7 linked regions of the Homo sapiens genome follow. The protein of the gene in region 2 purifies or fractionates together with the protein of the main gene of each other region. This does not show direct contact. Each region holds a gene or a part of one and is shown on either strand. Other genes may lie near its edges. The genes, in order: DAB2, AP2A2, CLCN7, OCRL, L1TD1, INSR and PIP5K1C.

What was found.
Region 1: the proteins of AP2A2 (region 2) and DAB2 purify together in Homo sapiens (affinity purification with western blotting; 2 studies listed by BioGRID, with this or other methods). This does not show direct contact.
Region 3: the proteins of AP2A2 (region 2) and CLCN7 fractionate together in Homo sapiens (co-fractionation; one large-scale study listed by BioGRID). This does not show direct contact.
Region 4: the proteins of AP2A2 (region 2) and OCRL purify together in Homo sapiens (affinity purification with mass spectrometry; 2 studies listed by BioGRID and IntAct, with this or other methods). This does not show direct contact.
Region 5: the proteins of AP2A2 (region 2) and L1TD1 purify together in Homo sapiens (co-immunoprecipitation; one large-scale study listed by IntAct). This does not show direct contact.
Region 6: the proteins of AP2A2 (region 2) and INSR purify together in Homo sapiens (co-immunoprecipitation; one large-scale study listed by IntAct). This does not show direct contact.
Region 7: the proteins of AP2A2 (region 2) and PIP5K1C purify together in Homo sapiens (affinity purification with western blotting, with the first as the bait; one study listed by BioGRID). This does not show direct contact.

Annotation. Positions count from the first base shown.
Region 1 is NC_000005.10:39,390,481-39,393,980, forward strand, and holds part of DAB2 (disabled homolog 2), read right to left. Parts: intron 2,914-3,500; coding exon 2,774-2,913; intron 1,984-2,773; coding exon 1,885-1,983; intron 96-1,884; coding exon 1-95. UniProt on the Homo sapiens protein: Adapter protein that functions as a clathrin-associated sorting protein (CLASP) required for clathrin-mediated endocytosis of selected cargo proteins.
Region 2 is NC_000011.10:1,009,305-1,012,740, forward strand, and holds the end of AP2A2 (AP-2 complex subunit alpha-2), read left to right. Parts: intron 1-23; coding exon 24-93; intron 94-378; coding exon 379-513; intron 514-1,243; coding exon 1,244-1,321; 3' UTR 1,322-2,936; downstream 2,937-3,436. UniProt on the Homo sapiens protein: Component of the adaptor protein complex 2 (AP-2). Adaptor protein complexes function in protein transport via transport vesicles in different membrane traffic pathways.
Region 3 is NC_000016.10:1,447,732-1,451,028, forward strand, and holds part of CLCN7 (H(+)/Cl(-) exchange transporter 7), read right to left. Parts: intron 2,936-3,297; coding exon 2,766-2,935; intron 1,597-2,765; coding exon 1,545-1,596; intron 1,363-1,544; coding exon 1,235-1,362; intron 1,036-1,234; coding exon 950-1,035; intron 754-949; coding exon 624-753; intron 1-623. UniProt on the Homo sapiens protein: Slowly voltage-gated channel mediating the exchange of chloride ions against protons. Functions as antiporter and contributes to the acidification of the lysosome lumen and may be involved in maintaining lysosomal pH.
Region 4 is NC_000023.11:129,557,259-129,560,758, forward strand, and holds part of OCRL (inositol polyphosphate 5-phosphatase OCRL), read left to right. Parts: intron 1-66; coding exon 67-177; intron 178-602; coding exon 603-692; intron 693-1,374; coding exon 1,375-1,495; intron 1,496-1,581; coding exon 1,582-1,743; intron 1,744-3,291; coding exon 3,292-3,393; intron 3,394-3,500. UniProt on the Homo sapiens protein: Catalyzes the hydrolysis of the 5-position phosphate of phosphatidylinositol 4,5-bisphosphate (PtdIns(4,5)P2) and phosphatidylinositol-3,4,5-bisphosphate (PtdIns(3,4,5)P3), with the greatest catalytic activity towards PtdIns(4,5)P2.
Region 5 is NC_000001.11:62,197,849-62,201,348, reverse strand, and holds part of L1TD1 (LINE-1 type transposase domain-containing protein 1), read right to left. Parts: intron 1-3,500.
Region 6 is NC_000019.10:7,165,415-7,168,914, forward strand, and holds part of INSR (insulin receptor isoform Long preproprotein), read right to left. Parts: intron 2,681-3,500; coding exon 2,554-2,680; intron 991-2,553; coding exon 740-990; intron 1-739. UniProt on the Homo sapiens protein: Receptor tyrosine kinase which mediates the pleiotropic actions of insulin.
Region 7 is NC_000019.10:3,693,969-3,697,468, forward strand, and holds part of PIP5K1C (phosphatidylinositol 4-phosphate 5-kinase type-1 gamma), read right to left. Parts: intron 1-3,500. UniProt on the Homo sapiens protein: Catalyzes the phosphorylation of phosphatidylinositol 4-phosphate (PtdIns(4)P/PI4P) to form phosphatidylinositol 4,5-bisphosphate (PtdIns(4,5)P2/PIP2), a lipid second messenger that regulates several cellular processes such as signal transduction, vesicle trafficking, actin cytoskeleton dynamics, cell adhesion, and cell motility.

The sequences.
Region 1 (3,500 bases), on a different chromosome or scaffold from region 2:
CCTTCTCCTCCACACACGTAACCAAATGCCCGGTTGTCTGTCACATCACGGGCAATGAAAGAAATCTTATTTACTGGATGTTCATGCTCTATTACCTTAAAAAAGAACATAAAGAGTAATTTATTAAGAAAACTAGAATCTATTTGCAGGCTAGCACACCGAAGCCTCAGACACATATATGAAGGCATATATGAAAAGTTTAAACCATTTGAAGATAGACTTTTCATTTCTGGTTGAAGGCTAGAGCATTACTCTTTCTAGAAAGGGCTCAAAAGAAAGAAGAATAGAAAACGTAAGTGGGAAGAATGTTCCTTCTTAAAATATTGATACTTTACTCTCCCTGCTTTAAAGACATGATGCCACATAGCCAGGAAGGACTGAGGATTAGAAGACCAAGTGAAGAGGAGACATTTAGCCCTTAAGCCAAGCCAAATAGGTCTACTTTCCCAACTCAAAGACAAACTTAAAAGAACAGCATAACTAAGCTAGAGGAGTGTTCACAGGGATTCATTGACGATGGCTCAGAGTGGCCGAGGAACCATCCTATGTGTTATTGGAACCGTATTCCCAGTATATTCTGGAGGATACCAAATACTGTCATCAAGTGTTTCTCAGCCTCACCTAGACAGCCTAATACATAGTAACATAATGTAGTAATAACTACAGTATGTTAATGACATAATGACTACATCAGTAACCAGGAATTATAAGGGGTGGGGACTGTATTGGCTTAGTGTCTTTTCTTCTATTTTTCCCTCCTTTTTCTTGATCCTTTCAAGCAGTTAACAAGGTTGAACTCTTTAGGGATATTTGTAGGTGGCAGAGTGTGTCTTGGCTTTTTGTCCTGAATGTCTAAGATATCTTAGAGTATCTTAGAAAGTTTGAGGAGACACAGAAGGGTGAGAGAAACATGCCACCTTTCTCTGATGGGCTTGGGAAAATAAGAGTTGACAGATAAAGGCGACTGATAAAGAGAGTGGTGCCTGAGGACCCCAGCACTAGCAGGCTGAGTGGGGTCCACTAGGGTGCCAGGGCCCTAGGTTTGCATGGTAGATAATGGGCACTCTAGAAAGGGATGAATAGTAACTGGAGGTCTCCTCACAGTATCGTGATGCGAGAGAGTATTTTATAGCAATGAAAATGAGCCACACACAACATTTTAAAAAACATGAGTCTTATGATGTTACATTGAGTACAGAAAAAAAATCACAGAAGACTTGATGTATGATAAATAGCTTTCTGATAAGGCTTAAAAACAAGGCAAAATAAGTAAGACTGTTCACAAGTAATAGAACAACAGGAACCAACAAAAACAAGGTTACATCTGTGAGGTGAGAAGGCAGGGAAAAAAGAAATGAAAAAGAGGTAGATGTGTTATGGGTGAGGTTCTAGCTTTAGGTTAGCCGGTAAGTTCACATGTAAGCAATACATAAAAGTGTCACAAACTAGGGGTTAAAATTAATCTAGTTCTGTATACCCGAGGTCAAAAAAAAAAAAAAAAATATATATATATAGAAGTTTTACTTTATAAATTATATATGTATTTATATTTTAATGTATATTTGTATATTATATAAATTATATATATTTATTTAATTTCAAAAATATATATATTTATATATTATAGACATAATGTGAATCTAAGCCTATTAACAGACTTAACAGACTTAGATTCACATTTATTATAGAACACAAATTCAAAATCAAGTATCTTGACTTTTACCTCCTATTCTGTTTTCTGCCTGTTACTTCTGGAGATGTAATATATGATATATTTGTTCCCCACAGAACTTTGAGAACGAAGAAGGGGAGCCGAAATTCAAGTAGCAAATTGTTGGTCAGACTCAGGTGGTCAGAGAGGTATCAGCAAATGTGAATTCTTACCCCAGTTTTCTCATCAATTATTTTTATCCCAGAAAGGGAAATGTTGACCCAGATCCTTTGTTTGTGTTGTCCCTGAGACCGACCAGCTGCCGCCATTCCCTGATGAGGGTGGAAAAACAAGAGAAGTTGAATTTTTAAAAACATCCTACAATGGTTTTAATATTAAAATTTTCAAAGTCAGTCAGCTTTGTTTTCGACTTGATCTGCCATCGATGAGAGGATTCGGCACTTTTCATCCGGGACAGCAAGACGGCATAGAAGACGTTGAACCAGGGCATCCCTTAGTTAGCTGTGCGAACTCGGACAAGTCACTCTAATTCTCTTGGCCTCAGAATAGTCACTGGTAAAGCTCAACTAGAAGATCTTTAGAGATGTTTCTTCTAGGCCTTGAACTATTGAACAAGTATTATTTATTCAGTCAGTTTCACATAGTGCCATAGTACTAAATTTTTAAATTCAAAAAACAGAAAGGCTAGCGCTAAGGAACACCAATGTCTAAGTAGAATCCTCAATTTTATCAGAACAATTCCCAGGTCTAAAACAGGATATTCCGTGCTCTCCACATATAGTAAGACAAGCAATGCAAATATTTGCACACAGCTTTTATAGGAATAGAAATAGGAATACGCTTGGTTCGTCCTAATGTTGAGCTTGCCAGAAGGAAAAGGCATCTAGAGTCCTATTATACTTGATAAAATTAGGTATCTAGGACATCCCTCCAAATATGCAAACACTCACGGTTTCTCAGAAAATGGGGCACTACTGATGGATAATGTGATTAAAAGCAGTTTTCAAGTAATTGAACAATAGGTCAACAAGAGCTTCTAATATAATTCCCTCTCTTGGACTTTTGCTTAATATACAGATAAAGCATTCATTTCCCTTTTACCTTTAGTTTCATCATAGAGTCTTGGCTCATTTTATCCCCTCTTGCATCTGGCACATCATCAATGCCAATCAGCTTGGCCTTATATTTTACACCATCGCCTTTGAACCTTGCTAAGAGATATTCATCTGTCTTTTCAGGGCCTGAGAAAAGAAAGGAATACAGGATGAAGAATGCTAGTTCTAATTATGACCAAATATGCTCTAGACTCTCCAAAATTTAAGTAATATAAATCCTGATTATACTACAACTGATCATGTATGTAATATTCTGTCCTGTCTTATTCTTACTTCCTTTGAGCAAAATCATGTTCCACAATCAACTGTGTATGGAGTTGAGGTGGGGAGAAAATAAACTGTTAGAAGTACAAAATTGACAGCGTTATGGGAAACGTATGGGAATATGGGAGGTGGGAGTTGGGGACATTTTTCATCATAGTTTTTTTTAAGTCTTTAAAGGAATATAAGGATGATAATATATGTATTTTTAATGTAAGAAAAATAAGCTGCCAAGCAATTTACCAACATTTTAAATTATCAATAAGGCAGAAAGGAATTATGCCTAAGTTCTCTTGAAAATTATTAAGATAATTATCCCATCTTTATAATGTCTTTTGCTCCTTTTACAAGGTCTGTGTAGTCCCATTCCCAATGAGTTCAGTAAAATCAAATGGTAAATAAATAACTGAATGATAACCATATAATAATTAACGACTGCATTATTAACTGAA
Region 2 (3,436 bases):
CTCGCCTTTGCTGTTTCTCACAGTCCACAGCAGGAAGTGCAGAACATCTTCAAAGCAAAGCACCCAATGGACACAGAAGTCACCAAAGCCAAGGTAACACGTCTGGAGGGACGGCCCCGGGGGACACGCAGCCCGTGACCCCGCGCCAGGGTCTGGAGGGACGGCCCCGGGGAACACGCAGCCCATGACCCCGCGCCAGGGTCTGGAGGGACGGCCCCGGGGGACACGCAGCCCGCGACCCAGCGCCAGGGTCTGGAGGGGCGGCCCCGGGGGACACGCAGCCCACGACCCAGCGCCAGGGTCTGGAGGGGCGGCCCCGGGGGACACGCTGCCCGCGACCCCGCGCCAGGGTCCTCATTCTCCTGTTTCTTTGGACAGATCATTGGATTTGGTTCTGCACTTCTTGAAGAAGTTGATCCTAATCCTGCGAATTTCGTGGGAGCTGGAATCATCCACACGAAAACCACCCAGATTGGATGCCTGCTGCGCTTGGAGCCGAACCTGCAAGCCCAGGTCAGGCCCTCAGGAAATGGTGGAACACACTTGAGTTGCTTTTTATTCTGGCACAATGTACGTGGTGAGATGTGTAGCTCTTTAGTGCAGTTCAGTCAGTTTTGACAGATGTTGTTTAACCACCACCCTGTCAATACATGGTTGCCTCCCAGCCTCCCCGCAGCTGGCCACCGTGGAGCATCATCCCTAGTGCAGTTCAGTCAGTTGTGACAGATGTTGTGTGCCTGTTTAACCACCACCCTGTCAATACATGGTTGCATCCCAGCCTCCCCACAGCTGGCCACCGTGGAGCATCGTCCCACCATGGAGCAGCCTGGCCCTGGGCGGTGGCTCTCCCAGCTGTTCCTCTCTGTCACCGCGTTGTTCCTTCTCACCACGTCCCGTTCTGGCGACGGACACCTGTCTCCGTTTCACTTGGGTGGCACCCAGGAGTGCTGCTGTCGCCCAGGGCCTGTGTGTGGTTAGTGCTGCAAGAACATCCCACAGCTTCTCCAGGTGGCCGTGCCACTTTGCACTCCCGCCAGCTACGTACGAGACGCCAGGCGCTCCCATGCCAGCCCTCAGTTTTCATGCTGACAGTGTGTGTGGTGCTCAGGCCTCTGCCGAGTTGTGGGTGCCTCCAGAGAGTGGTCCCTGGGCATGGCCCACAGGGTTCTGCATGGCGGATCCTGGACCCGAGGGCTGTGTGAGCCTCGGCGTGCCCGTTGACCTGCTGTGCTCTCTGTTTCAGATGTACCGGCTCACGCTGCGCACAAGTAAGGAAGCCGTTTCTCAGAGATTATGTGAATTGCTCTCAGCGCAGTTTTAGTCCTGAGGATGGAAGACCAGGCTCGTGTGTCTTGTGTTGTCTTCGTCTGTGCCGTTTGTCTTCGTGGCCATCCTGCAGATGAGCACCGTGTCCAGTGCCACAGCACAAGGCGCCTCCCCGCCCCGCCGCCCCACACCTCTCCCCTTTGGGCTGGACGGGAACACACGTGTGTGGCTCAGGAGGAAAAGCTCAGCCTGGACTGTGGCAGCCACGGCAGAAGGTGGATCTTGGGATCAATTTTTATAAAAATCGAGACAGTTCTGTGGTTAAATCTACAAATTAAAGGGAAATTAGAAGTTGGCGTGAACGTGGCGTTTGTGGGAGTGTCACTGAGATGGCCCGTGCTGCCGCCCACCCCGCCTCGGAGCCTCTGGGAGCAGCAGTGCCACTGTGCATGGCGTGGGCTGAGCCTTGGTGTGTGGCCGTCCTGGTGGCTGCACACCTGGCGTCGTCCTGGGCCCTTGGGAGGAGCACAGCTGACCCTGGTTTTGCTGCAGTCCCAGCTGGACTGTTTTCCCAGGCAGGATTTTAATCTAGAATTTAGAAACATTTGTATTTGTAATGACTTCTGGCAAAAGCACGTGTCCTGGCCGGATGTAACTGTTCTCCTTTCCCAGCTCCTGTTTGTGAAGGGCGTCTGTTATGCTCCTGCAGTCGCCGAGGCCTTGGATGTGCAGCCAGGGGAGGAGCGTCCTGCCGGCCCCGCAGGGCCCCCAGGACTCCAGGGTAAAGTGTGGGCCGGTGGCGCAAGACTCAGAGGTGTGCTCGTCTCTTTCCTGTCAGAGTGGGCGTCCCCAGGCCACGGTGCAGGCCTGAGTCCTTCCACCGGCCCCGTCCAGTCGTCCCTGGAGGGGCTGTGGAGGAGGGACGCCTCTGTGTGGTCAGGAAGTGAAGGGGCCATTGGCCGCATGCCATGTGCCACCTGCGGCTTGTGTCTCACCTGTCATCTGGACTCAGCACCCAGGCTGCACGTCTGACACCTGAGAGGCGAGAGAGTGGGGCCGGCCTAGGAGCCAAGGCTGGGGCCTTGCGCTCTGTCCCCAGGATGGTGGCCTTGTTTGTCCTAAACACACCCAGCACAGGTTCTGGCTTCCTGACATGCTGTGGAGGCAGGGAGGGTGGGTGGCCACATGTGCTTGAGGGTTTTCACCCTGGCCCTCAGTTGCCTGCTGTGCGGGTCCCTGGGGCAGCTGCAGGGGCTCATGGACCCATCAGGGTCTCCACAGCTCCCCTGCAGTGTGTGCACCCCACAATGTCTGCGGCTCTTCTTCCGGCGTGTCGGGCTTTGATCACAGCATAGCCACGTCAGTGGCGTGCGCCTCTCGCACAGGCCATTCTGGGTCTGGTGGTGCCAGGTGCCGTGACACGCCGTGCTGGGCTTGTGCTGCAGCTGGGTGGTGTGGCCCTCATTCTCATGTTCCAGCTGCTGGGCAGTGCTCTGCCTGTGTGCTGCGCCTGCAGGCTGCGTGTGCTGCCGTGGATCTCCTGCATCCCTTGACCCCTCCCGCCATCAGAGGAAAGGCTGCTCCCCGAGGCACCGCTTCCCTGTGCGGCGCTGCAGAGGGGCCCTCAGTGTGGCACTCCTCGTCAAAGAAAAATAAAGGCTAGAACTGCACCCCGGATCACGCGCTTTCTTTGGGGGGAAAGCATCCCATGTAACCCTCATAGCTCCCCGGGGGTCGCGTGAGGCACAGACCCCAAGGTCCCCGACCTGTCCTTCAGCAGTGGGCTCACGGGCAGCGGGCATCAGAAAGTGACCTGCCCTTTGCTCCGCCGGTTTGATTCTGGGTGTGTGGTGGAGCTTTTTGGGACTCAGGTCATGCGGGAACCCCTCCAGCCTGGCCGCAGGGCTCCCCACTGTACAGTGTGTTGAGGTGCAGCCCAGGGCTCCTTCCTGGGGAACGGGAGGCCCCGTGGGGATCCTCCAGTTGATCCTACCACAGATGGTGCAGAAGGGGCTCTCGGGCAGATGGGGGTGGCCCCCGGAGGACGGTGGGCTTCGCCAGAGACGGAACAGTCCTAATGGAGGGAGGGCAGGGGCCCAAAGCCAGAGGCAGCTTCTCTTACCAGCCCAGACCCTGCTGGGGGCAGCCCTGCCCAACTGCAGATCCCAGG
Region 3 (3,297 bases), on a different chromosome or scaffold from region 2:
GGTCAGGGCCACGGGCCCGAGGGTGGGAGGCTGCGCTGGAATGCTGTGTCGGGCCCCGCTCTGACCCTGTTCCGGCCAGATTTCCCATCTGGGCATGGGCCCCGTGTCGGTGGCTACCTGCTCACACCAGCCTCGCCATGGCATCCCACACGCACAATGCCACGGGACCCAAGGATCGGCGACAGGGTAGCGGGGCCTGACCGCGCACAGCAGAGAGCCAAGGGCCCAGGGATGGTGGCTTTGCTGCAGGGCAGATGCAGCCCCACTGGGTCCCAATAAAAACCAACCTCCAAACACCCAGTGTCCACGTCTAAAAGACACACAGCAGTGGCCGAGCTGTGTGTCCTGTCAGGGCCTCCTGACAAAGTCACGGCCCCCAGTGCCACGGCTCTCAGCCCAGCCTGGGTGCCAACCCCAAGACCCTGCCAGGCCGCAGCCCCCCCCACCAGCCTCAGCGTCCACACAGCCCTCCATGGCTGCACACTCAGCTTCCGGCACTCCTGGAACTGCCAGTGCACCCAAACGTGCAGCTTCCCCATCCTGCAAACCTTGCCGTGTGCTTCCCACCAATGGACTCGACAGAGGTCACATAGGCAGGACCCTGTCTATGGGGTGCCCGGTACCTGGGTGTCATCGGCATGCTCCACCACGGGGAAGCCGTTGTGATTGGACGCCGTGTCGCTCAGCACGTCCACAATGACGCCGACCTTCTCACGCCGCCTCAGGCAGGTCACTGGTGTGCTCATCACCTCCCTGCCGGAGGAGCCCGGCCACACATGCCCGTCACACGCCACCAACTCCCACAGTTACCTCTGCGGGCTGGTGAGGTGTGAAGCCGCTGGACAGGAAACGCGGGGCTGCCTGGAGCCCGCAAGCCGTGCACCCTGCCCCTGTGCAACAAGAGGCCGCTGGACACCCTCCCCACCCACAGGTGTCCTGGGCGCTGTACCTGGCAGTGAGTGAGTGTGAGGTGACCGGGGCCTCCCAGTGCAGGAAGGGCACACTCTGCAGCTGAATGTGCATGTCGTACAGGCCCTGCGGGCGGGGCGGGAACACAGGGCTTGAGGAGTCCACACCCACCCCTGGAGCCCCGAGCCTACCCCTGGGAGCCCAGAGGCCGCCCCCAGAAACCCTGAGCCTACCCCCCGGGACCGGCTGTTTGGAGGCTCACAGGGGCCCCTCCCCTATGGCAGCACCCACGCTCTCAGGGTGAGGCTTCGAGGCCCTGGCGCACCTCAATGAAGACGTCGCCCACGATCTTGGCGGTCATGAGCACCAGCATGATGGGGAAGCCGTAGGTCACGTTGCTGGTGGCCTCCATCATGATGACGGTCAGGCTCAGTGTCATCCGCACAATCCCGCCTGCGGGAGCCATCATGAACCCCAGCACGTCCACCCTCCTGGCTCAGGGTCACGTGGCCACTGCCTTCTCTGCAGCACCCATCCCATCCACCTGCTCCCAGACCCTAGCCCCGCAAGGACAGCCATGGCCCCCTCCAGACCCCGTGGAGCTCCCCACCCATCGGGCAAGAGCTGGGACATACCCAGCTGGGCAGCAGCTCCCATCAGGGCGTATTTGCCGGGGTCCGCCCAGATCTGTGGGAGGTGACACGGAGGAGGTGTCAGTGTGGTGGCAGGCCCAAACCCACCAAGATACACAGACGGAGGAGGCCCTGCCCAGGCCCAGCAGCCCCACAGCCAGGAACAAACCTCGTGGCCGCGTACATACACACAGAACAACCTAGCACAGTACACCCTGCTGCGGAGGCTGCATCCTTGGCCTGAACCAGGCGCTCAGCACCCGAGCAACAGGGGAGTGGCAGGCATGGAGGATGCAGAGGGCACAGTCACCACGCAGCAGCCCAGGCCAACTAGGGAGCACCGTCCAGCATGAGGAGTGAAACCCCGGCACACACGACACAGAGAGCCCCGGGAACATCAGGCTGGGCCACAGAACCCAGGCATGGAGGCTGCAGAAAGCGGGGCACGAGGGTCGGTGGGCACAGGGTTTCCATTCTGGGATGACGGAACATTCTAGAAGTGGTAGTGACGGCCGCACTGCCTCGTGAACGTGAGAAACGCCGCTGAACTGCCCTCTTTAAAACGATGAGTTTTACGGTATTTGAATCATGTTTCAATTTTAAAAACCAAACCAAACCCTTGTGCGGAGGGAGATGGGCAGAGCACACGGGCCTGGGGAGCAGGAGTGGGCGCTTCCTGCCGGGGATGAGAAGCATGGCCGGGGGCTTCCTGCCAGGGCCTCTTACAGGTTTTCAGTCTTATTTAAGCGACTGAAATGAGAAACAGAAGACACATAAGAGAACCCAGTCCCAGCAGAGGCAGGCAGAGAAGGAAGGCCTGCGGGGGCTGAGGTCTGGAGGGCAGTGTATGCCGCTCTGGCCCCCGGCCTCACAGAGAGCAGCCCTGGCCGGACATCCACCCCATGGAGTCTAGAAACAGCTCTGCAGCAGCCCACAATCACCTCTGCTTTTCATCACATTCTCAAGAATAAGGACACGAGCCTCCGCCCCCTACCTTCGCCTGGTCCAGACTCCACACATGGGCTGCGCTGCCACAGTACACGCTGCCACCACAGCAGGACAACGCCCACGGCCCGTGAACCACGCGAGGACAACGCCCACGGCCCGTGAACCACGTGAGGTGCGACACTTTTGTCCTGCCCTGGGACTTCTGCTCCGGCCCGCGATGCCGCAAGACCTGGCTCAGCTGCAGGGCCCCACAGCCTCCCCTCCGGCCCCACTCACCGCCGCCCCCGTGAGGTAGGACAGGGAGATCCCAAAGAGCCGGCCCCAGGCAGCCCCGATGAGCAGGGACGGGATGAAGACCCCGGCAGACACCGTGAGCCCGTAGGTCCAGCAGGCCAGGAAGAAGTAGACCAGCGTGAACAGGCCGAGGGTCAGGGGGTTGTAGGAGCCTAGGAGAGAAGAGGGGCTGACGGGGCCTCCACGACTCCCGCCTCCGCAGGACTGCCCTGCCCCGCTGCCCAGTCTCGGGCCTCACAGTCACCTTCCAGGAGCCCAGCAACCTGAGCTCCCGAGCCCAGCGGTCCCCAGAAGGCTCCCTGTTCTCAGCCTCCCTGGGAAGCAGAAAGGCTAAAAGGATCCCATGGGGAGGCCACAGGGGAAGAGGCTCTGCGGGGCCCTGATGCCAGCAGAAGCAGGAGCCGCGTCCAGCGGGGCGGCCCAGCTGGGTCTAGCAGCGCCAGGTCTACACTCCATGGGTGTGCACCGTGGTGCAGCTCGCAGCCTGGCTCCGGGAAGAGGGTGCCCCCCACAG
Region 4 (3,500 bases), on a different chromosome or scaffold from region 2:
AGAATATGATCCCAGTAAAACATTTTATCCCATAGCAGTATATGTATGGATTTCAATTCTTTTTAGGTGGCTGCAAAATTCGGGTTCAGGGGGACTGGATCAGAGAGCGCCGCTTTGAAATCCCTGATGAGGAACACTGTTTGAAGTTCCTCTCAGCTGTCCTTGCTGCTCAGAAAGGTAACTAAAGACTCAGCGATTTTCTTTCTTCTATTTCAACGGGAGTGGAATTCTGACATGCTGATACAGAGGAAAGTGGCCATTGGCAAAATACCTCACCCTTTAAGCCCTGATAGCTGATTTTTTTTTCTTCAGGAGTGAACACAGGGATAGGTTAGGGAAAAAATCTGCCCAGCTTTAAGGACACTAGGCAAGTTTTCAGAATATTCAGTGTCATGGCAAGCACAGCTTACCATAGACTATAATTCTCCTTCTGCCCCTAGATGACCCCAGAGCTGCCCTCATTTCCTTAGTTTCTTCCACTGTATCCAAAAATGGTGCTGGCCCCTGCATATAAGGAATGTTGAAAGAATGGCTTTTGGCTATAGTAAATTCTACTCAGTGAAAGACTTCCCAGTTTCTGACCATGAACCTTATCTCTCTAGCTCAGTCACAGCTTCTTGTTCCAGAGCAAAAGGACTCATCTAGCTGGTACCAGAAATTAGACACTAAGGACAAACCTTCTGTTTTTTCAGGTACTAAAAAGTTCCTGGTTTCCTTGTTGCTATGGTCATTGCAGAGTCAGTAGATTTTGTCAGGCCAAATATGGTGATGTAGATTAAAGCTGATGTCAGACACATTCTCCTGCAGAGTAGTTTTATCAAGTCCAGGCCCACTGACCAGTGTTCACTCCTTATCCTTCCTGTAGCATGGTAGCTGTTCAGGAGCCAGCTTAGCAGGGTGGTAGAAAGTACAAGCTCGAGAGCCAGACAGCCTGGATTTGAATCCCAAGTCAAGAACTTACTAGTTGTACAACCTTCATCAAGTTACTCAACAACTCTGAACTTCCCTTTTCCTTTCTGTAATATGGGAAGATTTTTAATAGTACTTACTTCTTGGAGTTTTTGTGATGATTAAGTGAGATCATGATATAGTCCCTTACTCTCAACCAGGCATTGTGCTCAGTCTTCAATAAATGTTAGCTATTACTAGTCTGTTCCAAGTTCTTATAAACTTCTATTGTTCTAGTTAGTATATCAGTGCTTCAGGGATAGGTATGCTTCTTCGAACTCCAATCCAAGTAATTTCTACCCTTATGATAGTTTTCTGTTTAGTAATACCACTGATCAAATTGTGATCAAATCAAAGCCCTGTTACCCTGGATATGTTGGATGTTAGATTTTTTCCCCGTTTGACTTTGGGGTCTGTGTCTTTCAGGGCTTCTTGGATTTGAAGACAATTTTTCTTCTATGAATTTGGACAAGAAAATAAATTCACAAAATCAGCCTACTGGGATTCATCGGGAACCCCCACCTCCACCCTTTTCAGTGAATAAAATGTAAGTCCCATGTGAAAACATATTTGCCTTGTAGGAGAATTATAGTTTAAACAATTTTACTTTTGAATCTCTCATTTATTTGCTAGGCTTCCACGTGAAAAAGAAGCTTCTAACAAGGAGCAGCCCAAAGTGACCAACACCATGCGGAAGCTCTTTGTACCAAATACCCAATCTGGGCAGCGGGAGGGTCTCATCAAACATATCCTGGCAAAGCGAGAGAAAGAATATGTCAACATTCAGACTTTCAGGTTAGTGTCTCTTTTGCTTCCTGAGTCTAAAAAGTTAGTATATATAACAGACAGTGGCCTGTTGATATTTAAGACATTAGCCTAATTAAGAATCAAAATATGATAAAAAGGAATGGTTGCCTGTTTCAAGCTCCTGTCTCTATGCTGGCCAATAACATGCATATCAGAAATAATGCAGATGCTACAGTTTCCCTTGGATTTTCTTTTTTTGTGTGTGTGGGTCAGGGTCTCTCTTTGTCACCCAGGCTGGAGAGCAGATAGATCATGGCTTACTGTAGCCTCAACCTCTCAGTCGTAAGCAATCCTCCCACGCCAGCCCTGCAAGTAGGTGGAACTACAGGTGCACACCACCACATCCAGCTAATATTTGTGTTTTTTATAGAGACTGGGTTTCACCAGGTTGCCCAGGCTGGTCTCAAATTCCTGAGCTCAGGCAATCCACCCGCCTTGGCCTCACAAAGTGTTAGGATTACAGGCTTGAGCCACCGTGCTTGGCCTTCCCTTGGATTTTCTAACTACTAATAATGCCATGTCTACTAATGTCTCTACTGAGTCCTAGAGAACCAAATCAAGGTCACATGTACTAGAGAATTTTCCCCTAGCACATTCCATAAGCAAGCGTGTTTATATATCTGGCCTGTTAAGTTTTTTTTTTTCAGCCAATATTAGAAAATTAAAGTCCATCATTACCACTAGCTCTTAACTTACTTACTTTGGTAAATAAAGAAAGTTTCACCCAGTCCTCTTGATTGGGAGGTCTATCTTGGGTTCTTTTATCTGTATTATTTTTTATTTCATCTTTTTTCTGGACTTGTGTGTGTATGCTGCATGTGAGGTACCATGTGGCATGTATCGCCAATGCATGAAGCAACACCACATTTCTTTGTTATTCATGAGCAGAATGTACCCTTCTAGTCCAAGATTCTAGTCCCATCTGCTATCCTGTCATACCTCATTTATTCTAATTCAGTCATAACTATATCCCTATGCTAAAACTTGCAGTTCCTCATATCCCCCACTATGCTTATATTTGTGTGTAAACAGTTAAGACAGTCATGAGTTTTCCCTTCTGCTTTCCCCCTTAATACTATGTCTGCCTCATCAGAATTTCCTACACAGATGTCCTTGTAATCCTTCAGGAAGTGAGTTCCTGGAGTCAACTATAGCCCCTTATAGAACATTTATCCATATTTGACTAGCTTACAGCATGAAGATACCTCTTTCCCATCCATAAGCTCTCCTATCAAGTATGAGTTTGGATGGAGCTTAATTGAAAGGAAATGTGGTATAGCAATTACCTTTGCATTTTTTAAAAATAAAGACTTGGTTTCCTTCTGTAGTTTTACTTAATGTAAAATTTAGAGAAAATAAGCCCACTGCCTTTGTGTTCTAGATGCAAAAGATCTTTCTTACATATGTGGCAAAACATTTTGAGGAATTATGTTAGCATATTGTGAACATACCTTTGTATGGAAGCGAAAAGAAAGAACTTCTGTTGGTTTATACTTGATCTTTGTTTTCAAATTATCTTTTCGTATTATGTATTAGATTTTTTGTTGGAACTTGGAATGTGAATGGCCAGTCTCCAGATAGCGGGTTAGAACCTTGGCTGAACTGTGATCCCAATCCTCCTGATATCTACTGCATTGGGTAAAGAACACTTCTGGAATTTCCTTTTGGCTATATGTTTGGTGTTCATTTACATGATGTTTTGCCTTTTTTAAAAAAGACTGTTGGTAAAACCTACTGTAGACTAT
Region 5 (3,500 bases), on a different chromosome or scaffold from region 2:
CCAAGATGACACAGAAAGCTGAAAACAAGGGTAAACTTCTACAGGCACATAAGGACAAATTTTTCTGATAACAATTGTGCCTTTATTGTGTCCAATAAACGCTACAATAAATGTACTTGAGGCCGGTTGCAGTGGCTTATGCCTGTAATCCCAGCACTTTGGGAAGTTGAGGAGGGCAGATCACCTGAGGTCAGCAGTTCCAGACCAGCCTGGCCAACATGGTGAAACCCTGTCTCTACTAAAAATACAAAAATTAGCTGGGCATGATGGCGGGCACCTGTAATCCCAGCTATTCCAGAGGCTGAGACAGGAGAATCACTTGACCTCGGTAGACAGAGGTTGAATTAGGGTTAACGCCACTGCACTACAGCCTGGGCAACAGAGCGAGCAAGACTCCATCTCAAAAAAAAAGTAAAAATAAAAATAAAATAAAACAAATAAACTAAAACTAAATAAAATATTTTTAGGAAAGACAATGTAAATCAATAGTAAACATGTGAAAGGTGGCCCAATCCCAGGAGTTGAGTACATAATAAAAAAACAATGAGACCACTTTTACCCATCAGAAGTAGGAATAGTTATTAAACATTTCAGGAAACGAAAAGCCTATTATTAAAGTCAGAAATAATACATATACTCTCCCCTTGAGAATCTACCATTAGGAATGAAACCACCTGTACACTTAGGAATACATGAATAGAAATTTTAGTACTGAGTTTTTTCTGGCCAAAAAATACTAGAAAACAATGTCCTTTAATAAGAGAAGGGTGGAACAAATGATGATTTATGCACACGATGGGATTATATAGAATAGATATAACTATATATAAGTACATAAATACATTAATTTATAAAATATACATTATAATATACATTATGGCCAGGCACAGTGGCTCACGCCTGTAATTCCTGCACTTTGGAAGGCCAAGGCAGGCGGATCATCTGAGGTCAGGTGTTCAAGACCAGCCTGGCCAACATGGTGAAACCCCGTCTCTACTAAAAATACAAAAATTAGCCAGGCGTGGTGGCGGGCTCCACCAGCTACTCGGGAGGTTGAGGCAAGACAATTGCTTGAATGCGGGAGGCGGAGGTTGCAGTGAGCTGAGACCACGCCATTGCACTCCAACCTGGGCAACAAGAGTGAAACTCCGTCTCAAATAATCATAACCATAATATACATTGTTATATATATATACACCATGTTATGATATATATACTCTATATGGTGCATACAATATGTTCAACGTACATATAAAAATTATACCATACATAATAAGAGTATATTAGAATCATACCCATTGGTTAAGGATGTCTTTGGTATACTAGAGGGAAAAAATGGTGCAGAAAATATAGAGTACAATCCAATTTTGTAAACACATATACAAAAACCATATGTACAGTAAACACAAAAAGATTATATTAGTCAGGAGAATGCAAATCAAAACACATTCCAGTGTTTGAACACCCTGATTACAGCCAGTGCAGGGGCAAATATCCACCCTGGCCACATTCATAGTGACCCTGGGGATTTTTTGACCTTTTCAGTAATTAATCTGGCCAGTGCCCTATTATCTAACACTACCTTTTTTGGGTAATGTGTTTTCCAAGAGTCACTCTATAGTACATGACAGGTGCAATGAGAAACTCGAAATTAAGTTATTTTTTTTAAAAGAGACAGGGTCTTGCGATGTTGCCGAGGCTACACTCAAACTCCTGTCTCAGCCTCCTGAGTAGCTGGGAATACAAGCACGCACCACCATGCCTGGCTTAAAACTGAAAATTACAGCCGGGCACGGTGGGATTTATTATTTGTTGTTAACTGTATCAAATGCTGATTTTTTTTTTTTTTTGATACAAGAGTCTCACTCTGTGGATTAGGCTGGAGTGCAGTGGCACAATCTTGGCTCACTGCAAACTCTGCCTCCTGGGTTCAAGCGATTCTCCCGCCTCAGCCTCCTGAGTTGCTGGGACAACAGGCACACGCCACCATGCCCGGCTAATTTTTGTATTTTTAGTAGAGACGGGGTTTCACCATGTTGGCCAGGCTGGTTTCAAACTCCTGACCTCAGGTGATCCACCTGCCTCAGCCTCCCAAAGTGCTGAGATTACAAACATGAGCCACTGCTCCCAGCCTCAAATGCTAAATGCTAAATTATGATTAGCGTTTAATGACAATAAATATATGTGACCTTTTTCACATCCAAGATATCAGATACTCTGAATTCTAGCCAGACACTACCCAGGCACTCTGGGTTCAAAATCCCTGATCAAGAAGAAAGCAGAGGCTGGTACAAGTTTAGCAAATTTTGTCTCAGGGTTGGATGGTAGCCATCAAAAGGGCTCAGGGACCAGACGTCCTGGCTTCTGCCTGCAGTCCCAGCTACTTGGGAGGCTGAGGCGGTCAGATTATTTGAGCCCAGGAGTTCAAGGTTACTCTAAGCTATGATTGCATCACTGCATTCCAGCCTGGGTGACAGAGCAAGACCCTGCCAAAAAAAAAAAAGTGATTAGGGAGACCGGAGATTTTCACCAGTGTACTCCCAAGTTCTGCTTTGTATTTTAAGGAGGTTACTTTAAAAGTATACAATACAGGAGAGCACCGGTTGGAAAGGGCAAGAAATGTTTAGCACTTCCCTCAAGGGACTGGGGGTTGGGAGGGCGGATAAACTTCCTTTAATTTTAGGGATGGAAAAAAGCTTGTTGATTTGCATTGCCTTGGCTTGTGACTGCCATCTTTTCATATGTTTATCTGCTTGCATTTCCTTTGTGGTGTATTACCTTTTCAACACTGGCAGCCTGTTCTTATCGGCGGGGTGGGGCGGCGGCGGGGGGTCGGTGTGTGTGTTTTTCTGAATTTGCTGGGGGGATTATGGACTTCTCTTTTCTTCTTTTTTTTTTTTTTAAATAAGAACAATTACTAGTCCCTCACCTCAGTCTCTATTATCTGACCTCTGAGGCCACCCAAAGTTTGGTGTGGTATCTCTCACAACGTACAGGTGACTTTTGTGTTTTTGCTTTTTTTTTTGAGATCTCACTCTCGCCCAGCGTGGCAAGCAGTGGTGTGATCACTGTTCGCTGGTCACAAACTCCAGGGACCAAGTGATCCTCTCACCTCAGTCTCCTGAGGAGCTGGTATTACAGGCATGCTACCATACCAAGATAAAGTGCCTGGTTTTTATGGGTGCATGGGAGGACAATAAAGGAGAATGCCAACTTCGACTTCTAGTTAGTACGTCTCTCTCCTTGGGTATGGGGACATTTACTTTTTTTTAATAGCTTTATACTTTTAACACTATTTTCTTTTTTTCAATAGGCCATTTGTAATCTTCCAGTTATATATGCACACCTCACTCTTCTATGTGTGACATGCCATATTTTGAACATATTTTGGTTCAATAAGTAATTCCCTCAGCAGTGGGCATTCAAGTAATTTACAGGGTTTTGTTTTGTTTTGTTTTGTTTTCTTCTGTTTTTGAGACAGAGTCTCACTGTCGCCCAGG
Region 6 (3,500 bases), on a different chromosome or scaffold from region 2:
GAAGCTGGGAGGCGGCTAACTATGGGGTTTTGTTCTGTGTTGTGAATATTTGACAATTTTTCATAATAGGATGAAAAATATAAATATTCCCATCAAGTGGCTTGTTGCTACTGCCTCGTCTGAAACTATAAGCCTCAATACCCAGCTCCTTTAAAAGCCAATAACTGACTGGGCAAGGTGGCTCACACTTCTAATCCCAGGACTTTGGGAGGCCGAGGCAGGAGGATCACTTGAGGCCAGGGGTTCAAGACCAGCCTGGGTAACACAGCAACGTTCTGTCTCTACAAGAAATACAAAAATTAGCTGGGTATAGTGGTGCATGCCTGTAGTCCCAGCTACTCAGGAGGCTGAGGTGGGAGAATTACTTGAACCTGGGAGGCGGAGGTTGCAGTGAGCCGAGATCATGCCATTGCACTCCAGTCCGGGTGACAGAGTGAGACTTCATCTCAAAGAAAAAAAAAAAAAAAAGCCACACATGGTGGTATACTCTGGTAGTTCCTTCTACTTAGGAGGCTGAGGCAGAAGGATTGCTTGAGCCCAGGAGTTTGAGGCTGCAGTGAGCCATGATCACCCCACTGCATTGCACTCTAGCCTGGGTGACAAAGTAAGACCCTGTCTAAAAAAAAAAAAAAAGCCAATAACCATATCAAGGAGCATTTTATACAACCTCACTGCATCAGCCTATTAAAAGCAAGAGGTCTGATTCACATACGAATTCACATTCCCAAGACACACTCACTGGTGGCATCTGTCTGGACATAAATGATGTCACTCTTGGCCCCATAGGTCCGGCGTTCATCCGAAAAGGTGACCAGGGTCTTCACAAAGATGGCATACTGGGTCCAGGGCTTGAGACCCCGCATCAGCCACCCTGGGTGGTTCTGTGATTTGGGGTCGTTGGACCTCAGGGGTGGGTCAATGTCTACCACCGTCCAACTGTTGGAACCACACGCATCCTGCCCGTCGAACTCCGTCACATTCTGATAAGGGCTTTCAAGACAAAACAGCAGAAGGCAGTTACCCTTACAAGACCGTCACACTGAGTGCCGTGCAGATGAGGCCTGGGAAGTTACATCCCATAGGGTCACATGTTACTCACCCAACAATCTAATGCCACAAGAAAAAATAACTCGGGAACAGCCAAAGAGAAAGGAACTGTCAACCCTGACATCTCAATGAAAAAACACAGCTTGGGCATCCCTTATTCAAAACACTTGAGACTTGGCCAAGTGCAGTGGCTCACGCCTGTAATCCCAGCACTTTGGGAGGCCGAGAATGGCGGATCACCAGAAGTCAGGAGTTCGAGACCAGCCTGGCCAACATGGTGAAACCCCGTCTCTACTAAAAATACAAAAATTATCTGGGCATGGTGGCAGATGCTTGTAATCCCAGCTATTCAGGAGGTTGAGGCAGGAGAATTGCTTGAACCCGGGAGGCAGAGGTAGCATCAGCTGAGATCGCACCACTGCACTCCAGCCTGGGCGACAAAGGGAGACTCTGTTTCAAAAACATAAATAAATAAATAAATAAATAAATGCTTGGGACCAGAAGTGTTTTGGATTTTGGATATTTTGGGGTTTTGAAATATTTGCATTTTACTAGTTAATTTGCATTGTACTGGTTCAGCATCTCTAATCTAAAAATCTGAAATCTGAAATGCTCCAATAAGCATCTCCTTTGAGTATCAAGTCGGCCCACAAAAAGCTTTGGATTTTGGAGCATTATAAATTTCAGATTTTCAGATTAGGGATACTCAATCTGTAATAATAGTAATAGCAGGAGCTCCCTCACAAGTTACTGATAAGATTAGACTGTGTGTCAGTGCTCAGCAAGGCACAAGGTAAATCTTGAGGGCTAGAACTATTATTAATATTACTACTGGTCAGGTGCGGTGGCTCATGCCTGTAATCCCAGCACTTTGGGAGGCCAAGGTGGGCAGATCACCTGAGGTCAGGAGTTTGAGACCAGCCTGGCCAACATGGCAAAACCCGTCTCTATCAAAAATACACAAATTAGCTACGTGTGATGGTGTATGCCCATAATCTCAGCTACTCAAGAGACTGAGGCAGGAGAACTGCTTGAACCCGGGAGGCAGAGGTTGCAGTGAGCCAAGATCTGCCACTGCACTGTACCCTGGGCAACAGAGCAAGACTCTGTCTCAAAAAAAAAAAAAAAATTGGGGATAAAAAAGAAAAATAGATAAGCAATACATTTGATAACATCCACTTAGTAGACTGAGCTCCTGACTACTAAGGATGTCTGATGAGACATACACAGGCAAGGCAAAATAGAATATTGCCCCAGGAAACTGGCCAGTCCGGGCTTCTATGGGAAAGCTGTCTGCTTCCATTTTAGGCATTTGATAAAAGCAGACACTATTGACTTTGCATGCCATCGACTGGTGAGATTGTAAAAAGGAACCTAAGATATTTATTCCAGGAGGAGGAGGGAGATAGACAGGAACCCAAGAGGGGCAGATTGGAGCACAAACGTAGCAAGCACAGAGCCAGCCAGCCCTCGCCTCCTCAGCGTCTCTCTAACTCTTCTACTTACGCCTCTTTGTAGAACAGCATGAACCCCAAGAGGTCTCGGAAGTCGGGGGGCCAGTACGGCTCCCATCTCAGCAAGATCTTGTCAAAAGATGTCCGAATGTAAGAAAATTTAAGTAACTCATTTTCACCTGGAAAAGTTAAAACAAAAGGCAAAAATGAGCTATTTCAGTGTAGTTTCAGACCAAAGCCTGGGACCCCCACACTTCCTGGAGGGACCGTGAGAAGGCAGAGGTGACGCTGCTATTCCCTTAAGGGTCTCCTCCCCATGTGCCTGGCTGAGTATGAATGGGGGAAGATTCAAAGGTAAGAGCCAGTTTTGCAACTTGGCCACTCACACTCACGTAAGCCAATGACTTGACTCAGCCAGACAGTCAACTGAATAAGCGCAGTCTGTACCCGCGCAAGAAGGACAACCGGCCAATAGTTATTGGAGGAAGGGATTTCCAAGGGTGATGTTTGTCCTGACACAACGTTGTCTCGCATATGGACTTGTAAGACTGACCTGGAAGGAGGTGCAACTCCAGTGCAAATAAACCTATGCCAAGTGAGTTTAGAGACCCTGCAGATCATTAGACATCGGAGAGACGCATCTAAGTAATTCTCTCTGCCTAGAAGACAAACCCTCTCCTAAACCTCACCCCAACCTCGCTCTCTCTCCTTGCACTACATTTTTTTTGAGACAGTCTTGCTCTGTCACCAAGGCTGGAGTGCAGTCCACCTACCGGGTTTAAGCAATTCTCATGCCTCAGCCTCTCAAGTAGCTGGGATTACAGGCACCCACCACCACGTCCAGCTAGTTTTTGTATTTTTTTTTTTTAGTAGAGATGGAGTTTCACCACATTGGCCAGGCTGGTCTCGAACTCCTGACCTCAAGTGATCTGCCTGCCTCGGCCTCCCAGAGTGCTGGGATTCCAGGCGTGAGCCACCATGCCCAGCCCTTGCACTACA
Region 7 (3,500 bases), on a different chromosome or scaffold from region 2:
TTGGGAGGCTGAGGCGGGCGGATCACCAGGTCAGGAGATCAACACCCTCCTGGCTAACACGGTGAAACCCTGTCTCTACTAAAAATACAAAACATTAGCCGGGCGTAGTGGCGGACGCCTGTAGTCCCAGCTACTCAGGAGGCTGAGGCAGGAGAATGGCGTGAACCCGGGAGGTGGAGCTTGCAGTGAGCCGAGAACGCGCCACTGCACTCCAGCCCGGGCGAGACAGCGAGACTCCATCTCAAAAAAAAAAAAAAAAAAAAATTTAAAACAAAGGGAAGTCACTTGCTCAGAGGCACACGGGTCTAAGCGGCCAAGGCAGGCTCAGCCCACACCAGGCCCTGGGACCACCCTGCCCAGGCTCCCGGAGCCTCCACCTGCTTTGGGGGTCCCCACTGCCTGCTCACCCCACATCGGCACACACCTGCCACAGTGCCTGGGCTCCCAGTCCTGCTCTGTCCTCAGTCCTCGCCACCCCAGCCACCAGCTCCAGGGCCCAGGCCAAAATCCTTCCAGGCCCCTCGTCTGCCTCCAGGCACCGGTGGCACTCACCTGGACACCTGCCCCAACCCCACAGAGCACTGCCCACGGACCATCCCCCACCAGGCGCTGTGAATCGGGCTCGCCGCCCCACTCAGATGCCCGTGCCACCCGCTGTCCTCAGGTCCGACCCCACGCGACCCTCTCCCACCACGTTGACTTCACTTCTGCGGCTCAAGTGGGTGCAGCAAGTTCCCACCCCACGGCCTCGGCGCGACTATTCCGCTGCCTACATCGCCTGAGCCACAGCCCACCCTTATTCAGCTCGTGGGGACAGTCACCTCCCTCCGAGTCCTCAGCTGCCGCAGGCCTGGCCACTTGACCTCCCAGGTGCCCTCACCACACTCATCACCGCCCAACGCAGCCCGGCTCTGGGCTGGGCAAACATCTTCCGTAAAGGACCGGGCAGCAAGTGTTTTCGGCTTCGTGGGACACGTAGCCCCAAGCATGGCCACTCAGCTCCCAGCTCTGCCGCTGCAGCGTGGGGGCCACCAAGGCCGGCAACGGAACAAATGGTGTGGCCGTTGCCAATAAAACTTTGTTGACAAGAAGCGGCATGGACAGATTCGGGTGGGGTCTCACGTGGCCACTTGTTCCCATCTGCAGCCTGACGCCCAGCAACCTGAGGGCTCCAAGGGGTCAGCGAGGCAGTCCCGTTAGCACCAGAAGACTGGGCACCCTGAGCCCCACCTGGCCCACACGAGGTGCTCAACAAAGGTCTGGAGCCCAGGAGTGGAACTCACACTTTCACGAGCCGACTCCCATGGCGGACCCCAGCGCCCAGGTGAGCTCGCTTGGCACCTGGGCCCCGGAAGCAGCACACGAAGGGGACTCCCTCTCCTCCAACAGCAACCTGGGACGGAGGGGGCACCCAGCTTTCTCACGGGGCCGGCTGCCTGTCCCGTGCCTTCTAAGGGCTTTACCCCATGATTCTCCATGCAGCCCAGGAGAAAGGCAGCCATCACGCCCACTTTACAGACAGGTACACCGAGGCTGCACATCCCCGGCTGGCATGCAATGGCGCTGGGTGTGAACCCAGGAGGGCCGGCCCCCGAGGCCTCTCCACTGGGACACCCAGGCTGTGGTGGTCACAGTGCCTGACCTGCATCCCGGGAGGCGGCCAGGGCGGGAGAGAATGGGGAACTTTCCGTCCCCAGTGTCCTCAGCCTCCGCCTGGGCCCTGCTGACTTGCAACAAGAGACACCACAATCCCACTGACCCTTTTTTTTTTTTTTTTTTGAGATACGATTCTGCTGTCACCCAGGCATGCAGTGGCACGATCACAGCTCAGTGCAGCCTCAGCCTCCCAGGCTCAGGTGATCCTCCTGCCTCAGCCTCCTGAGTAGCTGGAACTACAGGTACATACCATTACGTCTAGCTACTTCTTTTAATTTTTTTTTAGTAGAGACAGGGGTCTTGCTATGTTGCTCCAGGCTGGTCTCAAACTCCTGAGATCAAGTGATCCTCCTGCTTCAGCCTCCCAAAATGCTGGGATTACAGGTGTGAGCCACCGTGCCCGGCCTCCCTGACCTTTTTACACAGACCACCACAGCTACAGGGAGGCCCTGGTGGCGGTGCTGACTCCCTGCCCGGCCGCCCTGTGACCACACTACACTGTGCTCCAGGCAGGCGGGGCCTCTGCTGGGGCCATGCCCTCTTCCTGCCCAATGCCCACAGGTCTCCCTCGGATGCCACCTTCTTGGCAAGGCCTTCCCAGCCACCCCATTCTACCTTACCCTTCCTCCCTGGCACTGCTGGCCTCATGCACCTGATGTTCACCAGGATCTGCACTGTGCTGAGCTCTTCCGGGCGCAGGGGATGCCGCAGGAGTGGCACAGACGGTCTTGGCCCTCGTGGAGCTCTCGCTCAGGAGGAGATGGTCAGAAAACACGTCAGCAGAGCCATATGTTTCAGGTGGTGACAAACGCTATGGTGGCACAATCAGGGAAGAGGAACCGGGAGGGCAGGGGACGGAGAAGGGGAGACCGCTGTGTGGTGACAGCAGGGCAGGGAGGCCTCACGGAGAGGAGATGCTCCCACAAAACCTGGAAAGCGCTAAGGGAGCAAAGGACACAGATGGGAGGAGGGGCATTCCGGGGTGGGGGTGGGGGGCAGCCGTGCAAAGGCCCCGGGGCAGGACCATGCCCTGCATGCTGGAGGAACAGCAAGGGGCCCATGGGCCTACAGCAGAGTGCAGACGGGAGGGCAGGGAGGGCAGAGTGCGGAGGGGAGGGCAGGGAGGGCAGGGAGGGCCCGGGGCAGGCTGTGCAGGGCCTGATGGGCTTCAAAGAGGACTATGTCTTTGACCCCAAGGGAGGTGGGAGCCATGGAGGGCTGCGAGCAGAGGAGGGTCGGGACTCGGGCCGCTGGTTTTTAATGGGGTCCTCCTGGAATGTGGGACAGGGAGCAGAGGAAGAGCAGGGGCGCCAGGCCTGGCTCAGGGGGCAAAGGAGGACTGAGCTGGACCGAGGAGGACTGAGCTGGACGGAGGAGGATCGAGCTGGACCGAGGAGGACCGAGCTGGACAAAGGAGGACTGAGCTGGACCGGGGAGGACCGAGCTGGACCAAGGAGGACCGAGCTGGACCGAGGAGGACCAAGGAGGACCGAGCCAGACGAAGGAGGACTGAGCCGGACGAAGGAGAACCGAGCCGGACAGAGGAGGACCAAGCTGGACTGGGGAGGACTGAGCCGGATGGAGGAGGACTAAGCTGGACCGGGGAGGACCGAGCTGGACCCGGGAGGACCGAGCCAGATGGAGGAGGACCAAGCCGGATAGAGGACCGAGCCGGATGGAGGAGGACTGGGCCGGACGGAGGAGGACCGAGCTGGACCGGGGAGGACCGAGCCAGACAGAGGAGGACTGAGCCAGACGGAGGAGGACTGAGCTGGACCGGGGAGTACTCAGCCAGACGGAGGAGGACCGAGCTGTACGGAGGAGGACCGAGCTGGACCGAGGAG